Linked DNA regions of Homo sapiens. The protein of the gene in region 3 interacts with the protein of the main gene of each other region in a biochemical or structural test. Each region holds a gene or a part of one and is shown on either strand. Other genes may lie near its edges. The genes, in order: GDF6, INHBA and BMPR2.

Evidence for each region.
Region 1: the proteins of BMPR2 (region 3) and GDF6 form a complex in vitro, tested with the Homo sapiens proteins (one study listed by BioGRID).
Region 2: the proteins of BMPR2 (region 3) and INHBA form a complex in vitro, tested with the Homo sapiens proteins (one study listed by BioGRID).

What each region holds. Positions count from the first base shown.
Region 1 is NC_000008.11:96,149,290-96,159,583, forward strand, and holds part of GDF6 (growth/differentiation factor 6 preproprotein), read right to left. Parts: intron 1-10,294. UniProt on the Homo sapiens protein: Growth factor that controls proliferation and cellular differentiation in the retina and bone formation. Plays a key role in regulating apoptosis during retinal development.
Region 2 is NC_000007.14:41,684,634-41,694,927, forward strand, and holds the end of INHBA (inhibin beta A chain preproprotein), read right to left. Parts: intron 9,456-10,294; exon of another isoform or gene 9,286-9,455; intron 5,910-9,285; coding exon 5,017-5,909; 3' UTR 481-5,016; downstream 1-480. UniProt on the Homo sapiens protein: Inhibins/activins are involved in regulating a number of diverse functions such as hypothalamic and pituitary hormone secretion, gonadal hormone secretion, germ cell development and maturation, erythroid differentiation, insulin secretion, nerve cell survival, embryonic axial development or bone growth, depending on their subunit composition.
Region 3 is NC_000002.12:202,369,697-202,380,971, reverse strand, and holds the start of BMPR2 (bone morphogenetic protein receptor type-2 precursor), read right to left. Parts: upstream 4,646-11,275; 5' UTR 3,498-4,645; coding exon 3,422-3,497; intron 1-3,421. UniProt on the Homo sapiens protein: On ligand binding, forms a receptor complex consisting of two type II and two type I transmembrane serine/threonine kinases.

The DNA.
Region 1 (10,294 bases), on a different chromosome or scaffold from region 3:
GTTTTTTATTTCCCTTTTACTTTGCATCAACCTGGTTTGTTACAGCTTATTCACACCTCTGTTAACGGTGTTTGCTGAACATTAGACATATAAACATTTCCAGTTACAATTGCTGGATTAGGGCTTATCTTCGTTTCCTGGCAGCTACGTAGAGAAAGGAGGGTGAAGAGAGAAAAATAAGAAGGAAGGAACAAACCGTGGCATGTTAGAAGATACTCCTTCATAATGGTCAACGAGTTGGTAAAAGGCTGAAAGCACCTCAAACATATATTTCTGGTGTAGAATTTAGGAAAAATTTAAAAGAGGGGAGATGTTGGTCAAAGGGTACAAATTTTCAGTTAGGGTGAATATAAGGTAAAAAATAAAATTTTAACTAAAAAAAGAAACCAAGAGAAGGAATGGTACCTATTTGCAAAGTAATTACCATTGCACCCATTTTAAATGAGAAAACTGGCCTAGAAAGGAAAAGGGCATCTGTCCACGGTCACAGTACGTGGCTGGAGAAAGTTGGAGTGGCAAACTCCAGAGCGGAAAGGAAAAGATGCCCGCAACGCCAAAGGCCAGACGCCCGGGGAACCTGAGCCCCAAGAGGGCGGCATGAGGGAGGGACACGTAGCTGCAGGACTCTGTGCGCTTGCCCACTCCAGCCTGCCCACTCCAGCCCCAGAGCCTTCTGCTGGGGGCTACTTCCTTGGGCTAGCCTGTAGAGGGTTTCCAAAAACCAGAAACTTCCTTTGGTTGGAGGTGGGAAGGGCCTGGCATTGCATTTTCCCAAGACATCTCTGAGATATATACTCAGCTTGAGGTCCCTTTTGAAAGTCCTAGTTGGATTTTGTCACTCGCCTGGCTGTGCACCCACGGCTCCAACTTCCCGGACTTGCAGGATTCTTGGTACGGCTGACTTTGGGCTCCACGAGATTCCTCCGCGCGCACCTGGCTCACATCTCTGAGTACGCAGTGACCCTGGATAGCTACTGGCCAGGCGTCCCGCCACGCCTCCCAGCCATGTTCTCCGGTGGCACAGGCCCCGCGACTAGGCCACTGTCCAGAAAGTCGAGAAGATAGTGGACTTTCCCATCCCCAATCCCCAGGCAGGGAGAATCACCCATCTTTGCAAGAGAAACTCTAGGCGCCTTTCCCTTACCCCCTCATTTTAGAGCCAGCAGCAGCATTGAGCGCTTGTAGGGCACCACCTTTGTGCTAGGCACGTGCTCAGAGCTTTGATGGCCTCTCTCACTGAATTTTCACAGCGAACGTCTAAGGTCAGGCCTACTGTGATACTCACTTATAGATGAAGAAACTAAAGCTCTAAGAGGTATCTTGCCCATTGTCTTGAAACTAGCAAGGGACAGATGTTGAAGGTCCTAATTCCAAGTGCCCTGACCCCAGTCCTGCAGCGCAAGAGACAGGTGTTGAAGGTCCTAATTCCAAGTACTCTGACCCCAGTCCTGCAGCCATGCTGCTCTACCAGGGTCCTGTTTTGGCAGGGGGCCAGGAAATAGGACATAGCTTCATCATTAGTGTAATCAAGGTGGGCTGGGTTCCCCCAGGATTTTTTTTCTTTTCTTTACTACAAAGAAGACCTCCAAGCTCAAAATTCATGACTGGGCTTGGAGTCATTTTCTCAACTAAGTCTCTCACCTTCCGCGCTGCACTGAGGGGGCAAAGTCCATCAGGTTGGAAATAGAGCCAGGTGTACTGGGTGATTAAAAATGAGCCACCAACCCCTCCTCCTGGAGTGTGAAGGGCTTTAAGGGGAATCTGTGTGCCAACTATGTACCCTCTTCCTGAAATACAGATCTCTTGGGCCTCCCCCTGAGGAGATACTCATCCTGAGTCAGGCCTCTGTTGAGATCTGAGCTTTGCAAGCTGCTGACGCATTGCTAACATTCTTACTGAGATGTAAGTTCGGGAAGCAGTCCATACAATTCACCCTTTCCAGGGTGCTTTTTCTTAACCCCAATACTCATGCCTGATCCCCCAGCATAATAATCGTTAAGAGCAAACACTGGTGTGGCACTAAATCTGTTCTGGGCATGATCTAAATTCTTAACTTGTAGTAACTCATTTAATTCTCAAAACCACTTCTGAGACAGCCATCATTCTAAACTAAAAGAGACAGCTTGAGTAACTGGCTCAAGATACTAAGTAGTAGAGTGGGCAATCTGGCTCCAGTATCTGTGCCACCACCCTAGACATCCCAGCCCTGATCTCTGTGCCTTGTAGAAACCCTGAGAAACTCTTCCATGCTGCCCATGCCTGGAGGGAGGGCATCAATCCCTGGCCGGCAAGAGTCACTCACTTCAGCAGAACTACAGCAGTCATTACTTCAGCAGAAGAAATGTCGATGATTGGACTTGTGAAAGAGAATTTAGGAGGAAAATTAACAGGGCCACAGAGGGGTGCAAATGAGATAAGGTGTGAGAGAAAGACTTCTGAATGCAAATGTCAGTCACTACTGACAATGTGGAATGAGCATAGGAATTTAAAGTCTAAGAGACATAAATTTGAGTCCTGATCTGTGACTTAGTGGCTGGGTGACCTTGGTTAGACTGGGTCGCATAATCTCTCCCAGCCTCATATGCCTCAGCTGTAAAATGAGAGAACCACCTGTACCTTGCAGGATCATTGTAAAGGTCAGAGTCAAAGTACCTCAGGGATGTGCATAGTACATAGAGACGTCCAGTGAATGCAGCCAATATTTCTGTGACTACTTACATCTTCTAGGGGAAGGTGCACCTGTCCTTCTCTTGACTTCCTTTGAAATCCAGTTCTCTGGACTTCAGTCCTTGTGGTCCACTTCTCTCCACAAGATTCCAGAAGTGAGTGGAGGAAAGGTGCTAGGAAGCATGAGAAAGATGAAGACGCTTCCAGTTCCTGCTTATCTGAAGTCAAGTGAAAGTCAAGGCTCATGGAGGCTGCAGCCTCACCTCATCATCCCGATTCTTCTCAGTCCTGTGAGGCCCTGTCACCACTGCTGTCCCTCCCACAGTGCCAGGTGAACAGATGACCTCCACCCCAGCCACATCAAGGATCCAGCCCTTCTTGCAGGTTTCCTCTTCTGCAGGGGTCAAGGCCAGTGACAGCCCTTGTGCTAACCCAAATGACTCCCTGGCTGGCAGTGCAGCCCTGAGAGGCCTAAGGATTCGTTTCTTTCCCCACTTTGGTGTCCTTTTGTGGGGGCACGATCTGACCACAGGGCCAGTCTGGGGTGGGGATAAGGAGGCAGATGTTACTGATCTTCACTGTGCAAAGGGCCAGACACATATTGATGGGGAGGGCTGCAATGGAGGGCCCCTTGGGCTGCAGCATGAGGCCAGGCCTGTGGTGCTTGTCACTTTCGAAGGTTTCGTTGGCGGGTCTGTCTTCAGTGTGTGTTCCTTCTCATCACACATTCACCAGTCCAGCTTTTCTCATGTCTCTTGGCTTCCCCAGTGCCCTCCCCAATAGCTTGCCCTGTATTTCTGCTTCCAAAGACCAGAGGGGTCCAAGGCAAGTCTTCCACGGAGTCTTGGAGAGGCTTTTCCACTCTTTCCCTCAGGCCTCCAGACCCAGGCCCTTCTCTTCCTGAGGGGCCTGGGCCTTGTAGACTCCACAAGTTAAGTGGGTCTAGTGGCCTGCCTGGATCCCTGGGAGAAATCCCTGTATGGGCACAGCAAGCTGCGGCTCAAGGTGAGGCAAATGAATGAGAGTGGAGAGAAAGAAAAGAAAGGAGATCCTCGAATCCCACCCAACTGAAAACAGCTTCGCACCCCTCACCTCGGGGCCTCAGCACCGCCTTTAGTGGCCTTAGCTCTAACCCCAGGGTGCCTGTTTCTGACAAGCAGTGCTGGCTGGGGAGAAGCCCTCTCCCGTGAGTGCTGCTCACCCTATCAGGAGCTCCAAGGCGCTTTAAGGAAACTCCTTTTGTCTCTAGAGGATGAAACAGATTCATTTACAAAGCAGTTTTCCTGAACTTAGTTAATGACCCTGATGGCTGCGTGCTCTCTTGAGGGGCCAGAGAGGCAAAGCTGAGATCAAGGGCACTTCACTGTGCTTCTCTTTTCAACGGGGTCCCATTCTGGGCTCCCGACCACAGCGGCTCAAATCTTAATTTGACATCACTGCAGATGAAACCCAAACCGAAGCTCTCGTACTGTTCCCGCGCTGAGCCCTCCCTCCCCATCTCACTGAGGCGCGCACGCGGCCTGCCCTTCCCCTGGGGCCGGGACCTGGGGGGTTGGCTAGGGGCGGCCTTCCCTGCACTGTCGACCGGTAAGTCACCCGGGAGCCCAGGGGAGCAACCAGGTCCTCCACGAAGGCTAGGGGAGCGGAAAGGGAGGAATCCTCAAACTGCCATCGGAGCTGGAATATGATCGGGCTGCATGGCTTCAGTTTTGAGATCAAAAGTAGAAGGAAGGGTGTTCATTTTATGTGACTTCCGCTCCCTGACCAGTTCTGAGCTTGCAGGTGGGGGCGAGGGTTCAAACTGGCTTGTAGTCGCGGGGAGGATATTGGACTCAGCACCCAGGGGTCCTGCGCAGGAGAAACCGCTGTGCTGTGCTCTTTAAGGTGCTGGGCCGTGTGCAGTCTGGGAGGAAGGGAGAGCCGCAATCTCTGTCTGCGGTGTTCATTTAGGTCTGACTTTCGAAACAATTTAGCAAAGTGAGATTCGTGGGCCCTAGTCTATTCCTAGTCAATTTCCCTCCACGCTGAGCTTCGGAGCGGCAGTGGGCTGGGAAGTGGAGTGGGAGGCTGGACCAATTTGCCTGGAAGCCAGGTTTGCAAAGCAGGCGCACCGATTCTCCTGGGCTCCTATGTTATTAAGGGATGCCCTCTGCACCCCACTAAAGCCAATCCCCTGCGCTGCCCCTGTGCCCGTCCTCTGTCCTTCTCCCCAAGCTAAACCAGCCTGGGCTAGAGGCCCGCCCCTGGCCTCTTTCACGCCCACTCTCGGGTCCCTAAACCATGCCCCGCCCCCAGGCGCCGGGGCCACTAGCGCCGCCGCGCGCGCTTCCCTAGGAACGTTGTCCAGCGCCGCCCGCCGCCCGCCCCTTCCAAGCTCTTGCAGCCCCTCACCCCAAGTGGACCCAACCCTCAGTCCCCAGCAATGCTAATGGACTGTCTTAGAAGGCAGAGAACTGCAACCCTGGAACCCATTAGTCCAAGGAGGACCTATTTAATTCCTGTAAACAGGAGATACTATTTAACCGACTTAGAGTTTAAAAATAAACAGCCAGGCCTTGGGGTGGGGGATGGAGGGATGTCAAGCAACGGAATGGCACGGTGAATCCACATTCCGGCATTCCACACCTCGAGGGCTCGGCTCGATTCAGTCCCCTGGTCCAAAGAGTGTCGTTTGACCCGGGTTATTCAATACCCGAGGGGTTATCGAACTAATGGCTTTCCTTTTACTTAAAAGCCCCCAGGGATTACTGTTGATTTGCTCTAAGACCTTTGGTGCACGCAGTAGTCCTAGCAGGAAACAAAAGTTCTCGTTCTGCCCTGTTTCTATCATACCATCTTCCTCCCCACAGTCTCCACCTCATTCCCTTCTTCCTTCTCCGCCACCGCCCCAGAAAGACGTCACCACTTTCGAGGAGGTGTGTAAGAACCTCAAGGACTCCAGCTAAGAAAAACATGTGGTGTTAGGGCCTCCGATGCAGTGCCCTGCGTTCCCCGCGGGTCCAGGTGACACGCATCCTCTCCGGTCGGAAAGAGGAGCTTTCAAGTCCTGATTCAATTGGGGGGTGGGGAGGGTGGAGAAGAGGGATTCGCCAGGCCTGTCGTGATCTGTGGTCTGAGTGACTTTTTTCTTTTAATGCGCAGAAACCACAAGGATGTTTGAGCACGTTTTTAGATCCCCTCCCCCATCGGCAACTCCACCGCGCGAACTCCCAGAGGCCCGAGAGCCTCCCGCGTTGAGGAAAACGCTATGTCCGTCTCAGATTAGCCTCCTTTGCCAAGGAAACTCGCCAAGAATCCCTGCGCAACCTGCGCTCTCGCTGTAGAGCATACTAGGTGGTCTTTCTTTCTTTCTTTTTAGAATCTTCTTGCTTTTCCCTGTAAGGCAGACCTTAAGGCCTTAAGGATTGGAACTACAATAACTGATGTTTAACAGCAAGTCAGTGCCTAAGAGTTTGGTCTGTGGCCTTAAACGTGCCTTACTTATTCGAACCAGAAGAGCAAAACAAACTTCCAATTTAAGGCTTCTTTCCCTTACCCCCAGGCTTTTTGCAGGACCTTCCAGTTCACCTGGCTGGAGGAGGACCGTGAGCCTGGACAGTGGCACAAACCCCGTGCCCGCGCTCATGCAGGCGCACCCTCATACGCACACACTTGAACGCTTAGCAAGTCTTTTCCAAGGCTGTTCCCTCTTTCCGGGGAAATAAAGCCTAGATTGGAACCTTCTGCCCAGCTTCCTCATTTGGCCGTCTGGTCTGCATTAGTGTTTTTATAAGGGACTCAAACAAATCGAATACAAGGTCACCAAATAATTAACAGTTGTGAATTCCCTCCGTCCCCATTAAAATACTTCCCTGCTTATATTTCATTTTCGGTTTGCCAACGACAACAGGGTACCGGCAAAAGCACTGCTGAGTTGATTACACCACTCTGCGGCTCAGGTCCACCCAGAAACCCGCTGTTTTGCATAACATGAGGTACCAGATGAACTTCAATCGCGAGGGGACTATGCAACTCTCTGAATGCCCTCCCCGCAGCCGGGCTATTCCCAGAATGGTCCTGCTCTGCCCTTTGGTAATCACGACCCAGAAGGTGAATGGAGAAGCCAACAAACAATCAGTGGCAAACTGTCCTGAGAGTTATTTCTAGGGCATCAAGTTCTTCAAGGATGTTCCCATCTCGTTTTGGTTTTTATCTGTTCCTTACTGCCTCCTTTTTGAGAATATTATTACAACAAGAAAAAAGTAAAGGGTATTCTTATTTCAAAGCCATCTGGAAACCTAACTCACAGCAATAGTCTTAGACTCATTTCGGTTCTCTCATTCTTGAGAGTTGTTTTTTCTCCTTGTTGGAATTATGTGGCACCTTTCCCTACATAAACTGAAAGTCTGAATCAGTCAGTCTCTTTCTCTCTCTCTCTTTCCCTCTCTCTCTCTCTCTCTCTCTCTCTCTTTCCCTCTCTCTCTCTCTCTCTGTCTCTCTCTTTTCCTCCCTCCCCTCTATCTCTCAGCCCTGCTAAATTCATAGAACTAATTGTCTGGCTTTCCCAGGCCCCAGGGCTGGGGGTCCAGGGCCCCAGTACTAGTAGCCTTTTAATGAGTTATTTCATGAGCAAATTGTAATTTCATCATATCCAACCTTGTCCATTCTCATCCCATGATGGCACCTAAACACACAGGCACACACCTTCTCACCTTTATGGATCCAACATCATTTTTAAAGCACAATATAAGAGCATTTTTAAAAATCAGGGATAATATGGTTTGTGCATCTGCTAAAATAAGAACAGGAGGAAGCAAAGCACACCAAAATTCAGACCCTCACATCTAGTTTCACTCACACTCCTAACTGGGTCTTAAGTGACTGCAGACAAATATTAGACTGGGGGAAAATCTTTCCATTTTTTGACTTCTGCTTCTTGTCATCATCCATTAGAAACCACCTCACCACTTAAACTATCTATACAGTGCTCTAGTTAAACATGCAGGGTCTCGAATCTTATATAGGCCCCACCTCTCGCTAGCTGTGTGACCTCGAGCAACTTGCTTAACTCCTCTGTCTTCTTTACTTCACCTGTAAAACGTGGTGATGATAGCGTTTTCCTAGGAAGTGGTTGTGATAACTAAGCGAGATAATTCATGTAACCAATTTTAGTGCAATGCTTGGTACACAGTAAATTTTCAATAAATCGTGGTTACTATTATTACTCCTAGGTGTCTGGAGAGCATACTGAAAGAAGGGACCTGTTTTAGGTTTGTTTGGTTTCTTTTTTTTTTCCCCAATAAGTTCTCCTCCTGGAGGATAGGGAGAAGTGGCCTGGGATGGAGTACAGAACTTGCTTTCTTTATAAACCTAAAGCGTCCTTCATTCACTTTGGGCAGAGTTTATGCCTGTTCTCCCACTCTCAACCATAGGCTTCAGGTGTAACTTTGGGGTTTCCGGGGTAAGGAAGGCTTTTTACAGATACTGTACAGGAGCAAGTCGCCCATGCCTCCTGGACTGACTTCGGGGCTCCTTTCCTTTTCTTCGCTCCTCCCCTTGGGGGACCCCCGGCTCCACCGAGCCAGGCCAGCCCCACTCGACGGCGATTTAAACATCCCTTAGGCAAGGCGCCAAGTTAGCGCTGCTGGCCCAGCTCTAGGCGGGCCGCTGCTCTTTCCTCCTCGCCAGGCCGTCCACGCGTTGGGGGAGGGGACCCTAGGGGGGTTGGCGCGGTTAAGAGCCCCACGTGAGAGGGGCGGAAGTCCTTGCCAGGAGCCGGGGATGCGCGGCTGGCGGGTCCCTTCCATCACGGGAGACGAGACACCGTTTGATGTGTTATGACATGAACCCTCAATTAGATCGCTGAGTTGAAACACTCCAATCAGGGGCCCGATGCTAAGCAAGCCCCGGAAGGTCCAGCCTGAGGTCACCGCCGGTGACACATCAAATCAAAATCAGTGAGAGGGAAAGTGAGGCTTTCCCTTTATCAAGCTGGGGCTGCAGCCAGCAACGCACCCCCTCCTCTGCGCACCCCTCCCGCCCGTGGCTCCGCACTCCTTCACCCCCGCGCGGCGTGCGACAAGCCGCACCGCCTTCCCAGTCAACGAACTGCCTTTCTTCGCATTTTCTGAGAACCCGGAGACGCGGAGGAGACAGCGCCTTTGAAGATGCTGTCCGGGTGGTCATGCAGCGTCTCCTCCCGCTGTGGACCGCTCGCATCCCCAGCCCTCCACCGCATTCCGGGGTTGTAGCGGTACTTGTGGATCTCGGTCCTGCTAGTCTGGAGGCCTTGGCTCGGGAACAGAGGCCTCCCCAGACTGGGTGCACATGCAATCCCTCCTCTATCTCCAGGATCGGGGGCATACAGCGCAGTGGCGGGGATGGGGGTGGGGAGGCTACAGGGCAAACCAGGGTAAAGTGATTTCGCGTCTACGCCGGATTGGGGCCCCCAAGACTTTTCCCCAACCCTTGTCTGAATGCCACAGGCTTCCGGAGACACCTCCGAACAGCCCGCAGGGTCTTTTGGTCCTGTGCCAAATTCACAGGGCGCAGCGAACCAGTTATGGTGCCCACTTGGGGGAGGGGCAGAGATTCTTGCCACTTCATTCCCGGGCAAAGAAAATCCGCGCCCAACCGCCGGCCAGCCTAGGCCTCTGGGACTTCTTCTCTTGAGGAAGGGCCTCTTGAGCAGTCTTCTCTGAGCTTCCTTAGCCTCCTTCCGCAATTGTAGTAGAGAAAGTGCACGATTAACAGAGGACTTTGAGGGACAGAAACAACTGTAGCAAGGCGTGCGTCGTGGGGAGGGTTGGCGAGCTGCACGGGCAGCACGGAGGCCAGGGACTCAGTTGCACTACTACGAAGAAGCCACATGTCTTTGCAAAGGTGACTTTAGTAGCCCTAAAATCATCATAAAATACCTGGCGTTAATTTGCCCTCTGGACCTTTCAGCAGCTCATGAACCTCGCTGACCTCGGGCTGCAGCGGCGAGACCCTCGAGCAAGGAACGCGACTATGAGTGAGAGGCGGGGACTGGAGCCGGGGAAGAGCTCGGGGCTGGGGGCGGGGGGGCCGTTAGCCTGCTCTAAAAAGCTTAAGAGATGTGCGAGCACCCAGGGTAGCAGTGGCTGAAGCAGCTTCCGAATCCCGAACCCCAGCGCTGCAAGGTTTCCGGGCAACCCCACTTAACTGGGAGCAGGTCAAAGTCATGGAGCTAAGTCTAGGGAGGATGGAGGAGTGGATATCTGCCTAAATCGCTTTTATCCCGTCATTTTCTTCCTTCCTTCTCTTTACTCTTCCTTTCCTTTTTCTCCCTTCCTTTCCTGTCTCCTTCCACATTATTGTCTCTCTCCTTTAGGAGCTTAGTTTCCGATGCCTGTGGATCCTTCCCTGATTTCTGGGACCAGAGGTGGTGCGAGGTTTTCTTGAGGGCACTGGCCACGCTGCAGATCAACGCCGGTGGCAAGAAGGGGCCGCAAGGGTTTCCGCAGACACCCACACATGCAGGCGTTCCCACAGAGGGTACCAGGGATTTCCCAGACCCCCACCAGCCCTCAGGAATAGCGTAGAGAGAGGAACGTCGCCTGGCTGAGAAAGGTGGATGGGCATACCCATGTACCTTTGTGTATTAAGTACCCACAACCTCCGAACT
Region 2 (10,294 bases), on a different chromosome or scaffold from region 3:
CTTACTTCTGTAATTCCAAATTCCAACTCTGTTGGTCCCGGTAATAAGACTAAGTACATTTTTCCCCATGTATATAGATCTCTAGCTCTAGTTGCTCCATGCATTTCCAGTTTTCTAGCTAGAAAGGAAAGGAGGAAGAAGGAAAGAGGGAGGGAAGGAATGAATATCTCTTCATTTCCTGTGAGTAGTTGCCACTACACTTGAAGAAATGGGAAATCAACAAAAGAATAAAATATAAATATTGCTGATCCAAGCATCTGCAGCCCATTACCAGCCTCTGCCATGGCAAAATCTATTCTTTTTCTACTTGAGCTCTCTCACTCCAGCTTTTGTTATCTCCCACATTCAGTCTGTTTCTCATCCTCTTCTGGATAATTACAGTAAAAACAAAATTATCACCCAGCAAAGGATGTGTCAATATGTGTGCAAAGTTGATCATGGAAAATAAATAAGACATAAAATAAAAATAAAAATAAAAAATACATCCCAAACAGGTCTTTTTATTTAACATAAGGCCAAAGAAGCTATCAGGCGTTGCTGAATACTGTCCACTAACTGTACAAAATATTGACTGCATGCCTCGCAAACACCAAAATATCCGCTGGAATGCCATAGAAATAAATAACTTCTGCTATAAACACATGAAAACATATCAAACTGTTATCTCTTTAAACATATTGTAAATAAAAAAATTACCAGTACTTCTACACAATAAATATTAAGAAACCATTGACATAGTTGAAATGCACTCATATAAATTAACAACTTTAATTACATTAGCCAAACAGACATTGGTTAAAGAACTGCATGTAGTATGCAAAACAAAACAAAACAAAACAAAAAACAAAGTAAAAAACCAACAAAATAGAAACAAACAAACAAACAACATCAACCACAGAACATAAAAAGTTTTAAAATAAAACAGGCTTCAGATTATCTTGGCTTTCATAATTATATTTTTCTTTTAAAGAAAAATATCAACCCATTGTCAATGCACTGTTTTTCAAAGCATTTAAATAGAGGGTAAAACCCTTTGGAAATTAATACAGAAGAAATGATTCACTTTATGCATAAAAAATAAATAATAATATAGCTGAGACATGTGGTTTGCTTCTGCTCTTGAAGATGTGAACAGCTTCTAAGCATTCATTTTCTCTGACCCATACAACAGCTTCTCAGTGATACAGGGTTTAATTTAAACACATACAATGTCCACCCCCAAACCTTCTGCCCACATCTACAAGTTTTATTTATTTTGTGGGTTTTCAGGGTGACTAAGTTTTTCCCTACATTGAAAAGAGAAGTTGCCAAAAGGTGCACAGGAAATCATTTTTTTAAGTGAATATGATAATATGGGTCCGTGCTTAATACAACTGAGACATATTTGTTCTCTGTTTTTTTAGAGTCACCTCTTAAAGTCCAATCCCACAATGGTGAAAAAAAAATAGAAAGTATTTGTTCTACCTTTAAGGAGACTGCAGGGATTCTCCTTGAAAACGGAGTATGGAATCAATCTTAAATAAATATGAAATTGGTTGGTCTTCTGGGATAAGAAATTCCCAACTCAGTGTGCTGAAATTCACCTGACTTTTTTGGAAAAAATAGTCGAAAATGTCAATTTGGTCCATAAAATACATGTTACTATTAAAAGATATTTAAAGACAAATTCTTTTCAGAGCTTCTAAGATTGGTGTGGGCAGATTTTTAAGAGCCTAGAGTTTAGTCTTAGAGAAAGAGTGAGGAGATAGTAAGGTTAGATAGAGCCACTGAGTTTCAAGAAAAAAACATACTACTAAGAATCCCATATGTTATAATTTAAAGCCTTTACTTTTGGCCTCATGCTGCTAGGTGAAAGAGTGGTTGTTCACAGGACTTGTATTTTCCAAGATGATTAAAGATGGTAAAATACTATCTTTCAATGTTATCAAAAAATGGTAGCAACTTATACTTCTATTTCAAAGCCATATAAATTTAACAAAATTAAAGTTTGTGGGTGTTTGATAACCCAATCACTCAATATCCAATTAAAATATGGAATAAGTTTCAAATAAAATATGGAATTACATTTCTCTGCTTCTGATAACTGTGGTCACTAATCAACCCCCATGTTATCCCCGATATGTCTAGGACTTAGCTTAAAAAGATAGCAGATGTATTTGAGATGAGTGGGAACTATACATGGGTATCAGCTTTCTTGGTAAATTTCTGCTTTTTCCATGGCCTTGACCATCTTTGCTACTGCGCAGTGAACCAGGACTTAATTTCTCACACTGTTTCTGCAGGTTCCGGTACCAAAGAAGATGCAGTTCAAAATACTGCCAGTTTTCCAAGAAATTTTGTAAAGTTGAACATGGCCATCTACTCTTGCCTTAAAACTTTTCTCACCACACCCACCTTCCCACATGCATGATATCCAAGGTCGACAGACCTGGATTAGAATCCACTCTCAAGCTTCTCATGCAGTGCGTATTGTATTTTCTGCATAAGAAAGGGCTGCCTCTAGAACACAGTAAGTGTATTTGCCCAGTAGTGACATTGCCTACATATAGCCAAGTGTTATAGTATACCAACTTAGTATATTTTTCAAGGAGAGCTAAACCACCTTTTGTAATGTTTGGTTTCTCACTGTTATCTTCCTTTCCTATAATTAATTTATTTTAATCTACAAATTGACATAGGGCTAAAAGCTTCAATATTTTACAAAATATTAATTAATGTAATTGTTCCCAATTATTAGAAACTTTTTTCCATTTTTCAAAATGTTTGCCAACTTCACACAAGTGTGTAAAAATAGGGCTCTGGATTTTCAAAAGCACATACATGAATAATTTATTAGCTATTCCAGGCAAGCTAAGTACTAGAATAAACTAGATAAAAACTTGGCTTTAAGCATGTACTTTGATATTTATAAAACAAAGGTGTTTTTTTTTCATTTCTGCATCTGAATCAATACAAATTTACACATGAAGAATTTTGGCTGTAAATTAAAATTTTAGAGATTTTTACTACTGCCCTCACCTCTGCCTCCTCTTAACTGTTCTCTTCCTTACTCTCCCTCTCTTAACACTTTCTCTCAAATTAATTATCTTTTAGTTAGTGATGACATTATTTTTCCCAGCTGGTACAGGTAATATTTCTCACAACCAAGCCTTAATCATTTTTAAAAAATACACTCAACTCTAATTCTGGCCTAAATATTATTTTTCTGAAAAAGCTTCTGATTTAAGATTGATTCCAATAGACACTAAGTTGGAAAAACATCAGCCCAGAGTTTTGATTATCATCCTGTTTTCCCCACAGGGGATAACTTGTAGAAGTGGGAGGGGGCACAAAAAAGAGGAGGAAATTTGATCCCTGTACAATGAAAGAGGGCCTTGCTGAATATTCACTGGAATTTCCAGGCTTTTTCCCATCCGAATTTTTGAAATGCGCCCACCTAGTTCAGAGTAAAAGCAAAAACTATAGCCTATCCTTCTTAAAAATACTGTGTTTTGCACACAAACATTCATTGCTTTAAGAACATTAAAAAATGACAGCCTGAAGTGCTTAAAATGTGTATGGACATGGTACAATACATGTATATATACATACAGATATGCATATGCACAAGCAATGTATATATACACATACAAGCATGTAGTTCCATGAATTTGATTGAACTTGATATCCAACAGTGTACAACTACTGTACATCCAGTATGAAATGTCCTGTTTCATGGATGTAAAAGGAGTCAAAAACCAAACTTCTCAGGTCTTTTAAGCCTGAACACAATCCACACTACTCAACCTTGAATCCCAACCCCTGACTCATTGATGGTGAATGATACCAACCACAGACAGACTGTTTAAAGGCTCACACAAATGTCTTTGGTGTATGTGTCTATTTTTTAAGGTACAAAATAATAATAATAATTATAATTATAATAATAAAAATAGCTATTTTGTGTGCTGTAGCAGTTCTTTTATAGCTCACATTAAGTGCAGCTCTTAAACCCCACCCCCACCCCCAACCAAAGAAAATACTTGTTAAATAAGGATTAGACAGGTCAAACACCATTGTAGTGCAAATAGTAAACGATTAAAAAAAAAACAACAACAACATTTACAAAATATAGAAATGTTTGGATCCAACAGATGGACAAACATATTCCTTTCAAGTATCTCTCCTTGAAGAAAATAAAAATTAATCAGATTACTTCCAATACAAAAAAGTCTCTCTTTTTGTTCTCTCTCAGGTAAACAGTTTCAAACCTATTAGGTTGCATAGTTCTAAGATCATAAGCACCTTAACGAAATGTAACTTGGTATTCTTTTTTCCTTGATCTTTCATTCTTTCCATACTTGTTCTCAATTTTTTAATGTTGTTTGTTTTGTTTTGTTGCAAAAGTGGTACAGAAAAAGGAAGTGTGACCACCTGCACACGATTGTTCTTTTACCAGTATGTGTATATATGTAATGTGTGGAAATGCCTGTGTGTGTGTGTGTGTGTGTGTGTGTGTGTGTGTATGCTGATATACACAGAGATAAGTGTCACACAGACATACCTTATGACCTGGGTAATTGGGTAGGAAAGTGCCTGTGATGGGCCCTTTCAAACTCATGGCTTTCTAGATGCTATTTGGGTTGTTCTAGTCCACACTACTGCAGACTAGATTGGTTGATTCAAGGCTCACAAGGGAACCTCAAGGGGGGAAAGGACAATACCCCGTTTAAACAACTGATGTCATCAGTGTGATTTCAGAAGAAATAAAGGGTACACCATTCTCCCTTTCCCTCCCAATTCCTGTCTCTTTCACTGCTTCATCTCTGAGCCCTGGCTAAGGATTTTTTCCACATCTTCCTTCATCTGTTTCATCAGGTTTTGTTTTTAATTTACTTTTGTTTTTTTTTGTTTTTTTTTTTGTTTTGTTTTTAATTTCTATTTTTCTGGTTAACTCAGAAACCTTAAAAATTTCTTCATTTTGCCACTGTCTTCTCTGGACAACTCTTGCTCCCTTTCCCCCTGGGCTGGGCAACTCTATGAGCACCCACACTCCTCCACGATCATGTTCTGAATGTCCTTTTTGATGATGTTTTGACCATCATCATAGTACAACATGGACATGGGTCTCAGCTTGGTGGGCACACAGCACGATTTGAGGTTGGCAAAGGGGCTATGGCCCCGCATGCGGTAGTGGTTGATGACTGTTGAGTGGAAGGACAGTGAGGACCCGGACGTGCCTGCTATATGGCTCGGGCACTCACCCTCGCAGTAGTTGGCATGATAGCCAGAGGGAGCAATGATCCAGTCATTCCAGCCGATGTCCTTGAAACTGACAAAGAACTGTTTCTTACAGCAGATGTTGACCTTGCCATCACACTCCAAGCCCCGCCGACGCCGGCGATGAGGGTGGTCTTCAGACTGCCGGGCCTGCAGCATGAGGAAAGGTCTGTGCGACTGCTCCTTTTCCTCATCTGCTCCTGCCCCACCTTCACCTCCGCCCTTCTTTTTCCCTTCCCCCTCCTCTTCTTTCTTCTTCTTCTTGCCCAGGAGAACCAAGCTGGCGCCACTCTCCTGGCACTGCTCACAGGCAATCCGAACGTCCAGGGAGCTCTTGCCCTGGTCCAGCAACCGCTGGATGCTGCTGGAGACAGGGAAGACATGCCAGGTGCTCTTCCGAGCGTCTACTACTTTTTCAGAGAGCAACAGTTCACTCCTCTCCCCCTTTAAGCCCACTTCCTCGGCCTCTTCCCCTGTGTCCAAGCTGCCCTGCGGGTGCTTCTGCTGCTGGAAGAGGCGGATGGTGACTTTGGTCCTGGTCCTGTTGGCCTTGGGGACTTTTAGGAAGAGCCAGACTTCTGCACGCTCCACCACTGACAGGTCACTGCCTTCCTTGGAAATCTCGAAGTGCAGCGTCTTCCTGGCTGTTCCTGAAGATGAAAGACAGCATAAGAGAAAACAGGCACACCTGTTAATTCCAACATTTACATGCACTCGTAAATTTCAGGCAAGCAGGAGTCTTCTGTGACAGACCCTCTTGAATAGGGGTCAACAAATGACAGCCCATGGGCTGAAACTGTTTCTGTACTGCCTGCAAACTAAGAATGGCTTTTATACTTTTAAGTGGTTAAAGAAAAGTGATATTTTGTGACATGTGAAAATTACCTGAAATTTAAACATTAGTGCCTGTAAATAAAGTTTTGTTGGAGCATGGTTATGCTCATTTCTGTACATGCTGCCTATGGCTGTTTTTGCACTATAATAACCAAGGACTGCGTAGCTGCAACAGACTGCCTGGCTCACAAAGCCTAAATTATTTACTCTCTGGCCCTTTATAGAAAAAAGGTTTTGGACCCTTGCTTTAGAATGAAGAGGGCCTGCGAGTCTGTGTCTGTTGACTAATTGCTCAACCTCAGTTTCATCTTCTATAAAAATGGGAATGACATAAGGACATTTGACCTGTTATCTCACAGGTTTAGGAAGGTCAAATGAGATAACATAAACAAAAAGACACTGTAAGCTCTAGAAAGCTAAGGAAATACTATTCTCAGACAAAAATGCAGCCCCTGGCCCCACCTCGCTGTGTAAGTCTGTGCAGTCGAGACACACTTGAGCCAGCCTCTTCTTCCCTTGTCACAGCCTGATTCCTCCGCCATCACCTCTTTGCTGGGTCACTGCAGCAGCATTTTCTTTACTTTGCCTCTGCAACACTAAGGAAGGCCTCCTCTCCAGTCATTTCTCCATGAAGCAGCTAAAGGCATCTTTCCCACAGGTGGATCTGATCACATCACTTCTTCTTGAAAGTCCTTTACTGAATTCCTATTGCTCAGTATCCAACAGAAAGTGGCTGGGACTTTGGGCTCTGTACATGCTGTTCCTCCCTTGAATGTCAGCTCTTGCCCAGTCCTGTTCTCTGGGGTCTAAGGCCTTGAGAATTCCACCCCCTTTCTCAACTGCAGGCAGTGACACCTGCTGTTCCTTCTGCCTTAAGTGCTCCTGCCCCAACTCCAACATACCACCCTTAGTGCTGCCTTTAATAATGTTTCAATTTTCAGATTGTTTGGATGACAGTTCCTCTAGGAGGCTTACCTCACATCACCTCCACCACCACCCTCCTGCCAGCCTGGTTTAGAATGCCCGGGGTCTAAGGTCACTATCATAGTCTAGTGTTTAGCAGAAAGTAGCCAATGACTTGATTACTTATTAACAAATAGAGGCGTCCTTAGCATTGAGTTCTATTAAATTAAGAGAGCCACCTAGTACCTCTGAATCCCCCATTTTTGCCTCTGACCCATTACAGGGCAGATTAATGGGCACCAGAAACATATGTCAAATAGCAATCGCTGCTAATGGACAGGAAATCCCCACATTGTCAGGGCAGTTGAATTTAGCAACCACTCAGTTCCAGCCTAACTCTAAAATTAGAAAGTCACCTATTTCCTTCTCTTTTCCTAAGCAACTGTATGTTTAATGACACAGCAACAATTACTATGAAAGCAGGTATCCAAACTAAAATTTTTTGATTAATCAAATATTTTCCCTCACTTCCATTTTTCCCACTTGGTGGCATATAGAAACATATCCTCTTTTCCATGACCGTGGACCTCCTTACAACTGTCTGCTGTACATGTATCCCATGCACAAATCTGGGAACAATCTTCAAGAAGTTCATCTTAGAACTTGCAACTCCCTGGGAGGATCTCCCTGCCTGGATTTCTATAGTTAACGGAAATCCAGCCATACTTATCACTCGAGGCCCTGAGATGTTTACGGTACTATAAATTTTAGGCACAGTTTCAAGTTCTCTGCAGCAGAAGGCAGGCTTTTCTGTGCATTGCGTACTGTGGATTCTGTTCTTAATTTAACACACTCTGCACACTGTGATTATGATAGTGGTAAATTCACTGAGGCAAGGGCCAAGCAGGGCTGCAGATGGATAGGAAAGGTTCTCTGGCATCTTTCTATAAACTTACGAGGATGCTGGCCATGATGATGGTGGCGGTGGTAAGGGGAGTTCCTCTGACTCCGACCTCATGTCTTTGGCAGGAGTTGAAATGAATAATAAAGCTGGGTTTATGATTAGATAGAATACCAGAGCAGAGAGAGCAGTTAGAGGGAGAAGCTGTCTTATTTTAGGAAGCATGATGACTTATTTTTTCAAAATCTGAATTCGATATTCCCCTTTGCTAAGAATTGGTGTGGGTTTTGTTGTTGTTGTTTGTTTCTTAACAAAATAAAAGAGAAGAAGATTCCCATAAGCAGAGCTTAATCATTTAAATCTAAAAAGGCAATCAGCAGTTGATTTTAGGGTGGCAGGGTCCTGCCAAGGCCTTAGGAGAAGGCCGAGGGAAACCTCCCAAGCCTTGGATAACTAGCCTGGAGGGTGTGCAGGTTTCCTCCAGCTTGGGCACATCTGCCTTGCCCCATAGAGAATGTTAACAAGATACCTGCTGTTTTCCCTTCTGCCTCTATGCAGGACAGCTTCTGAAATCCTAAACTGCACAGGGTGTCACTCCAAAAACAGACAGATAGTAGCTGCTAAATTAGAGAACCCAGAGGGCACAAGGTTGGGTTTTGTTTTTCTAGGAAAGAGTGTAAAACTGGAGTGTCTGACTAGTGCCCCGGATAGGGAGGCTTAATAGGTTTGGGGTAACTCATCCCCATGAGCTCTGCTCTACTCTCATCCACACCTGCCAGAAGGGGTCAGGGTGAAGCCGATGGACAGCAGTGCTGACCCGCATGCAGTGGACTTTCCATGAATAACACCCAAGGCTGACTACAGATGTTTAGGTGGGGGTGCCGAGGGAGGGTTACTTGGCTGACTAGAATTAGGGACAGCCGTGTGCAAATTGCTTTTTTAGGGCCAGAGAGGCTGAGGCTGCTGGCTTCCAGTCACACAGCCTACAGGACAGCCCCTGATTTCACAAGAGCAGGTTTCTGATGCATGATCTAGCCCCACCCCTTCTTCACAGGCAGCTGTACTTGGAAGCAAATGATTTAGTGTTCCTGAGAGAGGATTGTACAAAGAGAGTACTCATTAGAGGGGGCTCAATCTGTCAGGTGCTGTTATATTAGGATCAGAGAGTCATCATAAAATGACTTTCATGCTGGTCTTGGCTGATAATTAACTGCATGGCATCGCCTGCGTATTGTAGAGAGGCAAGGGTGCTGATTTATGCATCCGTTTAATTATCTGAATTGAAAGACTCTGTTCCCTGTATTTGCATCCACTGCCTGCGTGCTTTCTCTCTCCCCCATATTTCTGACATTTGGATTTTCCCCCTACTAATTGACATGCCTGTCGCCTCCTTCTCCTGGTGTCCATTTCTGGAACTGCTATTTGTATATTGCATGATATTTTATCAGGAAAAAATATAAAACAGATCTAATTTCATGAAAATGCTGTTGCCATAATGCTCAGGAGAACAGGGGGAAGAGAGAGATTCAAGTCTTCCTAATGTCTACCTTATATGCAGGTACATTTTACAAGTTCTATTGTATTCTGACTTATTAAGCAGTGCATATTTCTTTCTTTTACATTAGCTTTCATTGCAGAAGGGTGTGGGGAGATGAGACTGCTGGAAACTGACGTGGGATTGATGTTTATCAGGGCTGTAGGCTTCAGAAATATATTAAGCCTCGGAATGTCCTAGGTATGAAAAAGATAATAAATAACAGGTCAATTTATTATATTCCCTTTATCTCTATATTACCTGAGAGAGATTGCTATACTGCAGTGACACTTTCAAGATGCCCCAATCCTCCAATCTCCATGCATAACAATTTGAAAAAGGGAAGGTTGACTAAGGCTGGGATGTTCAGGATCAATTTCTAATCAGTTTCAGGTTTTACTCAAATATCTCATGCTGTAAACTCTTGAAATGAATGTCTTCCCATAGTGCGCCGTGAGCAGGTTCTGCATTAGTTTGTACAGGTGCGACCTAGGTTCCTGCACTATTACCTAGCTAACCAGATATAGCTGGTTGCTTTGCGAACCTTTCATTACCTGCTCTCTAATAATATTCTTTTCATCCTCTGTGCTATTTTTTCCCTCCCGAGGCTTGTGAGCAAGGCTGTATCACAGCCTGCTCTGCCTGAGTAATTCACTAAGAAAGTCCCACGCAAACCCATGTGGGTGATAATATTTCATCACTTAAACCTCTATGAGCTTGGTGGACACATACCAAAGAGAGAGAAAAAGAGGTGCAGAAAAATGGGCAAAGAGAAATTTTGTACCTCACAGGGAATACCTCTGAAATGCTGCTGGGTGGGAAGGATTGGACAGAGGAGAGACTGTGTAAGCTGGAAGGAAAGA
Region 3 (11,275 bases):
AAAAAAGAAAGAAAGAAATCCAGGGCCAGGGCCAGGGCCAGGGCCAGGGCCAGGGCCAGGCACAGTGGCCCACACCTATAATCCCAGCATTTTGGGAGGCCGAGGCGGGCAGATCACCTGAGATCAGGAGTTCAAGACCAGCCTGACCAACATGGAGAAACCCTGTCTCTACTAACAATACAAAATTAGCCAGGAGTGGTGGCACATGCCTGTAATCCCAGCTACCCGAGAGGCTGAGGCAGAATTGCTTGAACCCGGGAGGTGGAGGTTGCAGTGAGCCGAGATCACACCATTGCACTCCAGCCTGGGCAACAAGAGCAAAACTCAAAAAAAAAAAAAAAAAGAAAGAAATCCAAACAATCAGGACTGATGATATAAAGCAGTGCTTCTCAAGCACCTGCTTGAGTGAGACTTTGCGGGGGTTCTCCCAGAGAGATTCATTCAGTACATCTGGACTATAGGGCCAAAAATATGCATTTTTATCAAGAACCCCAGGTAATTCTGTTGCAGTACCCACACTTTGAGAAAAACTAAAATGAAGATTACTAAACTTCAGTTACTCAGTAATATTCACTAACATTAGATTAATCTTACTTTATATAATGTGTGTGTTCCTCAAGAGATGTATGTAAAATTGCAATCTAATCAAGTGAATTATTTAAAACGCATTACAGAAGTTGACCTTTAAATAATAGCTGTGTTGTATTCTTTTATTAAGAATTCATTCATAAACCAAGCCAGCACATCTTATTTTTCATAAGTTGTTTTTTTTTTTGGGGGGGGCATAGAAAATGTTCTAAGAATTAGGCGGGGTGTGGTGGCTCATGCCTGTAATCCCAGCACTTTGGGAGGCCGAGGCAGGTGGATCACGAGGTCAGGAGTTCGAAACCACCCTGCCAAAATGGTGAAACCCCGTCTCCACTAAAAATACAAAAAATAAAAATAAATTAGCTGGGCATGGTGGTGGGCTCCCGTAATCTCAGCTAGTCTGGAGGCTGAGGCAGGAGAACCACTTGCGCCTGGGAGGCGGAAGTTGTGGTGAGCCAGGGTCGTGCCACTGCACTCCAGCCTGGGCGACAGAGTGATACTCTGTCTGAACAAAAAAGAAAGAAAGAAAGAAAGAAAGAAAGAAAATGTTCTAAGAATTAAGGAGTCCAAGAACTCAATAAGTGAGAAAGAGGGAATCAAAAGAAATGATTTATCCATGACCCCGAAAAAGGATGTGCTATCAATCAGTCTTCTAGGATTTATTTTCCTGTTCAGCTGCACCATTTGCGCCTGTCGAGTTAACATCACTGCATCTGTGTAACCCAAATCCACACAGGCCCTCTCTAATCAGCTTGCACTTAATGAAGCTGCACTAGCCACTTCAATATTAGGCCAAGCAAAGTTTTACATGTTCAGAACTACGACATTTGCATAACCACTGCTGCACTAACACCTTGTAAGTGTCCCTGCTTCTTTACAAAGGTTGATCTGGTGAAGGCTAATTACTCCATCTCATATATCCAATAAGATGAGAAGTTGTTGCTGCTAGTGCTGCTGTTACCATTAATGTGGTATGTGAGGGCGCACACTATAATCCTGGCTCCATAATTTACTGACTGTGTGGTGAGTTATTCAAATTCTCTGTACTTTACTCTCCCTCTATGGAAAAGGGGAATGATAATAACCTACAACATAGAATTGTCATGAAGACGAAATGAAAAAATATATGTAAAGTTATTTGAATAGCTGATGGTGCATGGCAGGCACTTAATAAATACTAGCTATTATCATTACTGTTACAGGTCTGAAATCCAGCTTCACAAATTTTGTCATCTGGTGCTATGCAATACCAAAGAAAAAAAAGACTACAACCACTTTTAAGCAGTGATTCTTTTACTCTCTCCCTTTTAAGAGACACTATTCTAAGATGATTGTATTACCAAACAAAAATTAAGTTTATTTTTAAATAAATGCTTTTTCTCTTACTTTTATCAGTTCTGATCACAATATTATGAGCACGTCATCATAAATGAGAATCTATATTCTAAAAAGGTTAAGAATAACAAATAACATTGAAAAGCCTATGTTCTGAGATTTCTGCTCATGGAACGTTTAAGGCCTTTTACTCCATATTTTACAGGAACCACATGGCTTATGGCTAGAGAATTTAAATAGCTAACACAATATAAAGAAATTTAGAGAAAAATCATTTTTACTCTGAAAGCAACTACAATTATTAAAAATATTAAAATATCAGTTTTAAAGTAAACTCAGAAGTTCAAATTATTTTAACAGAACCATATAGATTTATCATCAATTTAACAGACATTAATCAACAGTAGACATTATTCAACAATAGCAAAAGCATAAAAGGAAACTTCAAATTTTCTTCGGCATTTTCCTAGATCAGACTTTCAAAATGAAAATAAGCAAGTAACCTCTGTATCTAACATAGCAATGAGAAATTTGTTTAATGTGAAACACACTTATCAAAAGAAAAAAAGTAATTCGAAAGGGTCATTTGGTCCTTTACTCGTTTTAAAAGCACAATCCATTTGCCCATCATAAACCAAGTGTACGAGTTATATGTAGAATTCACTCCTGAAAATTTCTAAAAGCAAATCACCAAAAGGCTGCTTGAAAAAATAGTTGCAAATAGAAGATAAGGTCTTTTTCCTAAGGTTTCTGAGAACTGAAATGAAAATATCCAAAGGAAAGGATGACTACCACCCTTTAGACTTTAGTGAAATGTCAAAGAACTTTCGGAGTCAAATCTCCTAGAAGTCTAATGTCAGGTCAAAGTTGTCTCGACAGCAAAGCCAATAGATAGATGCCAGATGACTAACAGTAAAGTTATCAAACCGTATAATACAATATATCAAGAATCTCACAGTTCTGGCTTCCTCAACATTTATTCTATTCATTCGGTAACATTTCTGAATAATGAAAGGAACATGGATTCCCAGAGTGATCTAAATTTCAAAATAAGGTTCAAGTGTGTGTTCTCTAGTTGATGTTCTTTTTACTATAAGCCAAAACCGCTTCTTTATAATAATAATTTTAAAAATCTACAGGTCTGTTTCCAGAGATCTCATAATAAGCACTGTTCACTGGTGATTAAAATATTATTTTTAATCGTTGCATTACCTCACAGCTAAAAATGTCAAGATACCACACCCAATATGTCTTTTTCACCCCGTAAAGGGGGGTGGGGTGGGAATATGGAAGTGGGGATAGGAAAATACACAAGAATATTAAAGGCGATTTCCCTGGAAGGCATGGGGCAGGCGCGCAGGCACCGGGTCGCAGCTCCGCTGCACCGCGATCGGGGGGACGCATGGCGAAGGGCAAGCACAGGCCTCGGCCTCTGCGGGCTCCCTCCCTCGCCACCCGCAGGGGCAGTGGCCGGGACGTGCCGGCCGGAGCTACTCACCAGCCGCAGTGCTGACCAGCAGGATGGTCCATGGTAGCCAGGGCACCCGCCAGGGCCGCTGCAGCGAGGAAGTCATCCCTGGGCCAGCCAAGAATCAGGAGGGCAAAGAAAAGAAATATGGGAAGTAGACCGGCGGAGAAACAGCCGGGAGGCTCGTCTTCTCTCCCGTGGACTGATCCTGCCCGTATCACAATACAGTTTGAAAGGACAAATGGCTGATGAGAGGACCTAGCTGCAGAGCTTTCATGCCGCTGCAGAAATTCCCTTCATTTCTCTCCCTCGCGGCTGGGGGGGTTCCTTCGCCTCGGACGGGGTGCCGCGGCCCTCCAAACGGAAGGCATGTCTGTGGGGAAAGCAGGGAGCCAAGAAGAAATCCCCCAAATTATTTCCCTCGTAGTTTCACGATATCAAAAAAATATCCAGGTCTGGGAGAAAACATATCCAGGGTGCGGAGGGCGGGGATTCGATCCGGGGTCGGGGGGCGAGGGTCAGAACTAGTTCCCGACTGCCGGGAAGGACGAAGCCGGACGGGCGGCGGCGGCGCCCGGCAGCCCTAGTCGCATCGCCCGCGGCTCCGGGAAGGCAGGATTCCTTAAGTTTCGCTTCGGTGCTTCCTTCACTCTGATTTCGAAAACAACAAATCCTCTTCCTTGACTGGATCAAAAAAGGTGCCTGCCTCCATGGACAAGCTCACAGTCCCCACGCCTTCGCAGAACAACCGTGAGAGGGTTGGGGAGGCCCTGGCGAAGGCTGAGGAGAGGTAGGAGCGGGGGAGGGGAGGGGTCGCGGTCGCGGCCCCGGTCCGGGCTCCCCGAGACGGCAGGCGGAGTGGGTGTGAGAGGCTGCCCCTTCTAGTCCTCCCGGCGGCGCTCCCTTCCCTTCCTCGCTTTTTATTCCTGCGGCTCGATCTTGCCTGAGGTAAATTCCACCAAGAAAGCCTCCTCTTCTCCCGTCAATGGCTCCTGTGAGCGAATCACAACCCCCCGAGGAAGCCGCTGCTGCTGCCGCCGCCGCCGCCGCCGCCGCCGCCGCCGCCGCCTCGTTCTCCCGCAGCTCTGGGCTCCTGACGGAACTCGGGCGTCGCGGACCGAGGGCGGGGGGCGGCGGGAGGGCGGATGAAGGTAGCCGGGGAAGGGGGTGGGCAGGGAGGCGGCGAGACACCCTGCGTCCCTCCGGGAGGCACTTCCAGTGGCTCCGAGCAGACCAGACACAAAGGGGGGAGTCGCCGCAGCTGCCAGTCTGCGGCGCTCCCGGTCACCGGAGTCGCCCCGCCTCCGCCGCCGCCTCCGCCTCCTCCTCAGTCTCCGGCTCTTCCCGGCCCTGTCTGTCTCTAGCCTGTGGTGCAGAGCGGGCGGCGGCGGCGGCGGCGCCGGCGGCGGGATGAAGCCCGCACTGCGCCTGCGCGCTCACGGCCCCGCCCGGCCCCGCCCCTCGTTCGGGGCTGGCTGAGGGCTCCGAGGCCCCACCGCAGCGCGTCTCTCCGGTGAATGGCCGAGGGCTGGGTGGGGCTGCGGTGGGCAGCGGTGGCCTTTCTCCTTCACACACATACACATGCCTTCCAAATGTGCATGGCTTGGGATTCGCGTATTTGTTTAAGAGACGACGGCCACATCCTTTTGTTCGGCGTTCAGCAGACTCCTCCGAGTTCCGGGATTTCTCCCGACTGAGGCGTCTCCGTCTCAGTACTCTCGGAGGAAAGCCTCGAGGGGCAGAACTGCCCTCTGTTGTTTCACGGGGCTGGAACCTCCCTCTCCGCAGCCCAAAGAATCCGGATGGACCCGCCTTTCCCAGAACCGGAGACCTTGGCCTCCTCAGGCTCCCCTCTGACTCAAACAAAAGCCGGAATTGGAAAGACCACCCCTTTGATGTGTTCGCTGTAATCGACGTCCTGCTTTCCTCAACCGCCCATTCCCTTAGCCTTCTTAGTTGACAGGAATATTGAGTATTTGCAAGGATGCGAAGCCAGAAAAAAAAAAAAGACTTTTAATTCTATAAATCGTCCCGCTGCGTGCGCGCGTCTGTCCGTACAGCGCGGTGCCCACCCCGAGAGAGGGCCTGGATTCACCAAGGCTGGGGGCCTTGAGGGCTTTTTAGGGCACGTGAAAGGAAAATGGAGTTAGAGTTGTGTCGGGATAGAGAGTGGGATCATTTTGCACTCAAGGAATTGAGAAGATCCCGTTGGTACCGCAGTTTCCAAGGATTTGTGTAGTGCGTTTTTTGGATCTGGTTTGTACAAGCGACCAGTATAGGAGACGGGATCCCTCCCGCCCTTACACCCCGCTGCGGGGTCAGCCGACGTGGGTGGGATTTTGCTGGCGGCGAGGGGAGAAGGTGACGTGCGTGGCGCCATGATCGGAAGTCTGGACTGAATTCTTAGCTGCGAGGTGGAAAATGCGCGTGGGAGGGCGATCTTGAGGGGTGAAGTCTGGCCTTCCCATCTCCTACCAGGCAGGAGGGTTATGCTGAAGGCTGGTTTTGCTGGTCTTTCATTGTGGCTAAGGGCAGTTCCACAGATACAGTCATAGATAGACTCCTTAAGTCATGCTCTGCTTGCTTCTTCTAGTCCGCTGTTACCTCTTTATCTGAATTTGATGTAAATAAATCTCCACATTCCTTAAACTGGTTCTGTTATACTAAACATCTTCCATAATTAGGGGTTGTAGCAATACCAACCCCGGATTCTAAGACTCTTTTTAGTTGAAATATGTTTATGCTGTTTACCCTTTAGACAGAGAAAAAAAAATTCTACCTAGTAAAATCCCTTAAAAAGACGAAGAGCATATGCTTTGATTCATTAGCTTTATTTATTTAGGTTTTATTTATTTATTTATTTATTTATTGAGGCGGAGTCTTGCTCTGTCGACCAGGCTGCGGTGCAGTGGCGCGATCTCGACTCACTGCAACCTCCACCTCCCAGGTTCAAGCAATTCTCCGGCCTGAACCTCCCGAGTAGCTGAGATTACAGGCGGCGCCATCACGCCCGGCTAATTTTTGTATTTTTAGTGGAGACAGGGTTTCACCATGTTTGCCAGGCTGGTCTCGAACTCCTGACCTCACGTGATCCGCCCGTCTCGACCTCCCAAAGTGCTGGGATTACAGACGTGAGCCACCGCCCCCGACCGATTCTTTATAGCTTTATTACTGTATTTTGTTTTGCCCAAAAGGTCTAAATTAGAAACGGTATTGTTTTACCATTTGTCTTTCAAGAACTGAGAGTTTCTAGCACTCAGAGAAATTGGATTTTAGTATGTTAGAGGTGCAGAAAGTTTAAAGTTTATTAATTCGTAGTACACTTTTATCTTCCTCAAATTGAGATCAAGTACTTCATCATTCAATTTTTATTTGCTTAAGATTTTTTCCAAGAAACATTAAGTGTCCTTTTTGTAGTTCCCCCTTATCCACCGTTTCAGTTACCTGCAGTCAACCACGGTCTGAAAATATTACATGGAAAGTTCCAGAAATAATAAGTGGTGTTTTTTTTTGTTGTTGTTGTTTTTGTTTTTTTTGAGACGTAGTTTCTCTTTTGTTGCCCAAGCTGGAGCACAATGGCACGATCTCAGCTCACAGCAACCTCCGCCTCCCAGACTCAAGCGATTCTCCTGCCTCAGCCCCCTGAGTAGCTGGGATTACAGGCATGCGCCACCACACCCGGCTAGTTTTGTATTTTTAGTAGAGATGGAGTTTCACCATGTTGGTCAGCCTGGTCTCGAACTCCTGACCTCAGGTGATCCGCCCTTCTGGCCTCCCAAAATGATAGGATTAGAGGCGTGAGCCACTGCGCCTGGCCTCATAAATTTTAAATTGAGTACTGTTACTAACTAGCTGTGAGGAAATCGCTGCCATCCCACACTGTCCTTCTGGGATGTGAATCATGGTTTGTACAGTGTATCCGCTATAACCTCCTTAATCACTTAGTAGCAGTCTCTTATCAGACTGACTGTGGCAGTATGCAATATCCAAGTGCTTGTGTTCAACTAACCCTCGTTTTACTTAATAATGGCCCCAAAGCACAAGAGTAGTGATGCTGGCAATTCAGCCATACAGAAGCTGTAAAGTGCTTCCTGTAAGTTAAAACGTCAGAGTTCTTGCCTGTAATCTCAGCACTTTGGGAGGCCGAGGCAGGCAGATCACAAGGTCAGGATGATCGAGACCATCCTGGCTAACACGGTGAAACCCTGTCTCTACTGAAAATACAAAAAAATTAGCCAGGCGTGGTGGCAGGCGCCTGTAGTCCCAGCCACTCGGGAGGCTGAGGCAGTGAATGAATGGCATGAACCCGGGAGGTGGGGCTTGCAGTGAGCCGAGATCATGCCACTGGACTCCAGCCTGGGCGACAGAGCAAGACTCTGTCTCAAAAAAAAAAAAAAAAAAAAAAAAAAAAAAAAAAAAAAAGTCAGAGTTCTTGACTTAATAAGGAGGGAAAAAAATTATAGGCTGAGGTTGCTAAGATTGCTGGTAACAATGAATCTTTGGCAGGGTGCAGTGGCTCACGTCTGTAATCCCAGCACTTTGGGGGACCAAGGCAGGAGGATCACTTGAGGTCAAGAGTTCAAGACCTGCCTGGCCAACATGGTGAAACCCCGTCTATACCAAAAATACAAAAATTAGCTGGGAGTGGTGGCACGTGCCTGTAATCCCAGCAGCTACTCCGGAGGCTGAAGCAAGAGAATCACTTGAACGCAGGAGGTGGAGGTTGCCCATTGCACTCTAGCCCGGGCGATAGAGACTCTGGCAAAAAAAAAAAAAAAAATCTATCTGTGAAACTGAATTGTGAAGAAAAAATAAATTCATGCTAGTTTTGCTGCCATACCTCAAACTGCAAAAGTGATGGCCACAATGTGTAATAAGTGCTTAGTTAAGATGGAAAAGGCATTAAATTTGTGGGTAGAAGACATAATAGAAATGTATTCCAGTTTATAGCAATTGGGTTCAGTACTGTCTGCAGTTTCAGGCATCCACTGGAGGTCTTGGAACAAGTTCCTTGTGGATAAGGGGCAGGGAGGACTACCGTACATGTTATAAATGTATGATAAATTATATAGAACATAAAGAAAAGGTCTTAGGAAATTCACAAGAAAAAACACATGCCGCTGACTTGGTAGGTAGACAACTAGATATGTACCCTCTTCCCTTTTCTGTTCCTTCTTGTGATATTTCAGTTGGGACATGGCTGTTCACTCACAGTGAGAAAGAACATCAAAGAACAGAATTAAGACTTGGCAAGAAACCTGTCCACGACAAAAGGCAGACAATGTAAGTCAAGCTCAGCTGAGAACAAAGGACTGGTGATGCAGGTGAGGTTTGGCATCTGTACTAATTAGGATGGGCTAAATTACAGTAACATTCACCAAATCTCAGCATCTTATTGCAATAAAGGTTTATTTCTCACACATGTTACATGTTTGATATAAGTCATCAGGGGACCCATCGCAACTTGAGTTCACAGGAAATAGACACTGAAACTCTGAAATTTGTATGCAGGAGGTTATTACCTAATGATGGCAAGAGCAACCTCTGTGGGGATTGAGGGATGCAAGACTGGGCAGAGGGAGAAGTTGAATTGCAACACATTTGCAACTGAGGCATCAATCAATCCTGCAGGAATTCTGGAGCTGGGCTGGCCTTTCAGCATTGTCCTAATCTGTGTCTGCTAACACTTTAAGGTACACCTAAAAGACCCCCCAAACCCAGCAAGCTTTTCATTCAAGATTCCTTCAGTGGAGTACATCTAGGGAAAAAGTCCCTCAAGTATACTGATAATTTAGGCTCCTTGAATGCTGCCTTGGAGTAGGAAATCCAGCATTAGACAGACTGCCTAGCCAAGTTGGGTAAAACCAGTAAATTTTTTTTTTTTTTTAAAGACGGAGTTTCGCTCTTGTAGCCCAGGCTGGAGTGCATTGGCACGATCTTGGCTCACTGCAACCTCCGCCTCCCGCGTTCAAGCAATTCTCCTGCCTTAGCCTCCCAAGTAGCTGGGATTACAGGCTTGTGCCACCATGCCCGGCTAATTTTTGTATTTTTAGTAGAGATGGGGTTTCACCATGTTGGCCAGGCTAGCCTCGAACTCCTGAACTCAGGCGATCCACCCGCCTCGGCCTCCCAAAGTGCTGGGATTACAAGCGTGAGCTACTGCGCCCGGCAAAACCCAGTAAAATTATACCTTCACACCAACCAGTCACTGGATGTGGGCTGCACATATTGAAAGAGATGTGACCGGCCTGGAGCGGTGGTTTACGCCTGTAATCCCAGAACTTTGGGAGGCCGAGGCAGGCGGATCACGAGGTCAGGAGATCGAGACCATCCTGGCTAACACGGTGAAACCCCGTCTCTACCAAAAATACAAAAAATTAGCCGGGCGTGGCGGCAGGCGCCGGTAGTCCCAGCTACTCGGGAGGCTGAGGCAGGAGAATGGCGTGAAACACGGGAGGCAGAGCTTGCAGTGAGCCGAGATCACGCCACTGCACTCCAGCATGGGTGACAGAGCGAGACTCCATCTCAAAAAAAAAAAAAAAAGACAGACGTGACCTTTGATAAAAGGGCTCTCTTTAGCCAACAGCTACCCCCAGAGAGGGACCCAGCTGACCACTGTCAGCCACCAGCAGTTCCAGCAGTTGGGAGAAAGAATGCTTTAGACCTAAAGGGTGGATCTGGGGAGCTCAGCAAAATGTCCACTGCATGGACTCTCTCATTTTAATCACTGAGGTCCTTAGGTTGGTAGAGGCTTCACTGAGACACATGTTTTCAAAATTGTGACAGTAGGGATCATAAAATTTAATTGCTAGTGTTGCAGTGTCTTGCTGTAGCCATTAAAAAGCTTCCACCTAGAAGCAGTGTGCTTTACTTCCACTCATATTTTAGTGGCCACCAAAGTCAGATGGCCAAACCTAACTTTAAGAGGGCAGAGGCTGGGAGCAGTGGCTCACGCGTGTAATCCCAGCACTTTGGGAGGCCGAGGCGGGCAGATCACAAGGTCAGGAGTTCGAGACAGGTGAAACCCCTTCTCTACTAAAAATGCAAAAAATTAGCTGGGTGTGGTGGCAGGTGCCTGTAATCCCAGCAACTCCGGAGGCCTAGGCAGGAGAATCGCTTGAACCTGGGAGGCAGAGGTTGCAGTGAGCCTAGATCGCGCCACTGCACTCCAGCCCAGGCGACAGTGCAAGACTCAGTCTCAAAAAAAAAAAAGAAAAAAAGAGGGCAGAAAATGTAATCCTACCATGTCATGAGAAAGAGAACCTGAATATTTGTGAACAGCCCTGATGACTAACATAGTATCCAAGGGTAAAATAATCCCCAATATTCTAATCACCAAAACCCCAACAAGTAGGATTTTTTTCCTGGTAGGGGTAAGGAAGCAGGAAATAAAGGAGAACAACACAGAAATCCAAGAGGACAGACTAACAGCATCTGCGAAACTGATCTTCACTATGTATTATAGCCCCTCATGGATGATATCTCTGCCTTCAGTTGGAGGACTGGTCCTGGTTTTAAGAAGGGACAGAGGGGCACTAAGCAGATTATTAGAACAAGAATTGAAATAAGGACCAAGGCCAATTTCTTGTTAAATAAATGAGGACATGTAGGTATTACCTGGGCTCAGAAATACCGACTACTTCTAAGAATAAACTTCATGATCATAAAGGGGTGGTATCAAAGAAAAATAGAAGAAAAACTCTTAGCTCTAGCAGACAAACAATATGGAAGTTAGCACTGGGACACCTTTCCAGATCAGAAAAACAAACAACTAAAAGCTGCTTAGAAACTTTAGAATTTTATCTTTAGGCTTAAACTGAGAAACAGGACAGGGCATTGTCTCCTTTTGGAAGATCAAGGTATAGTTGTGGGGAGAGAAGAAAA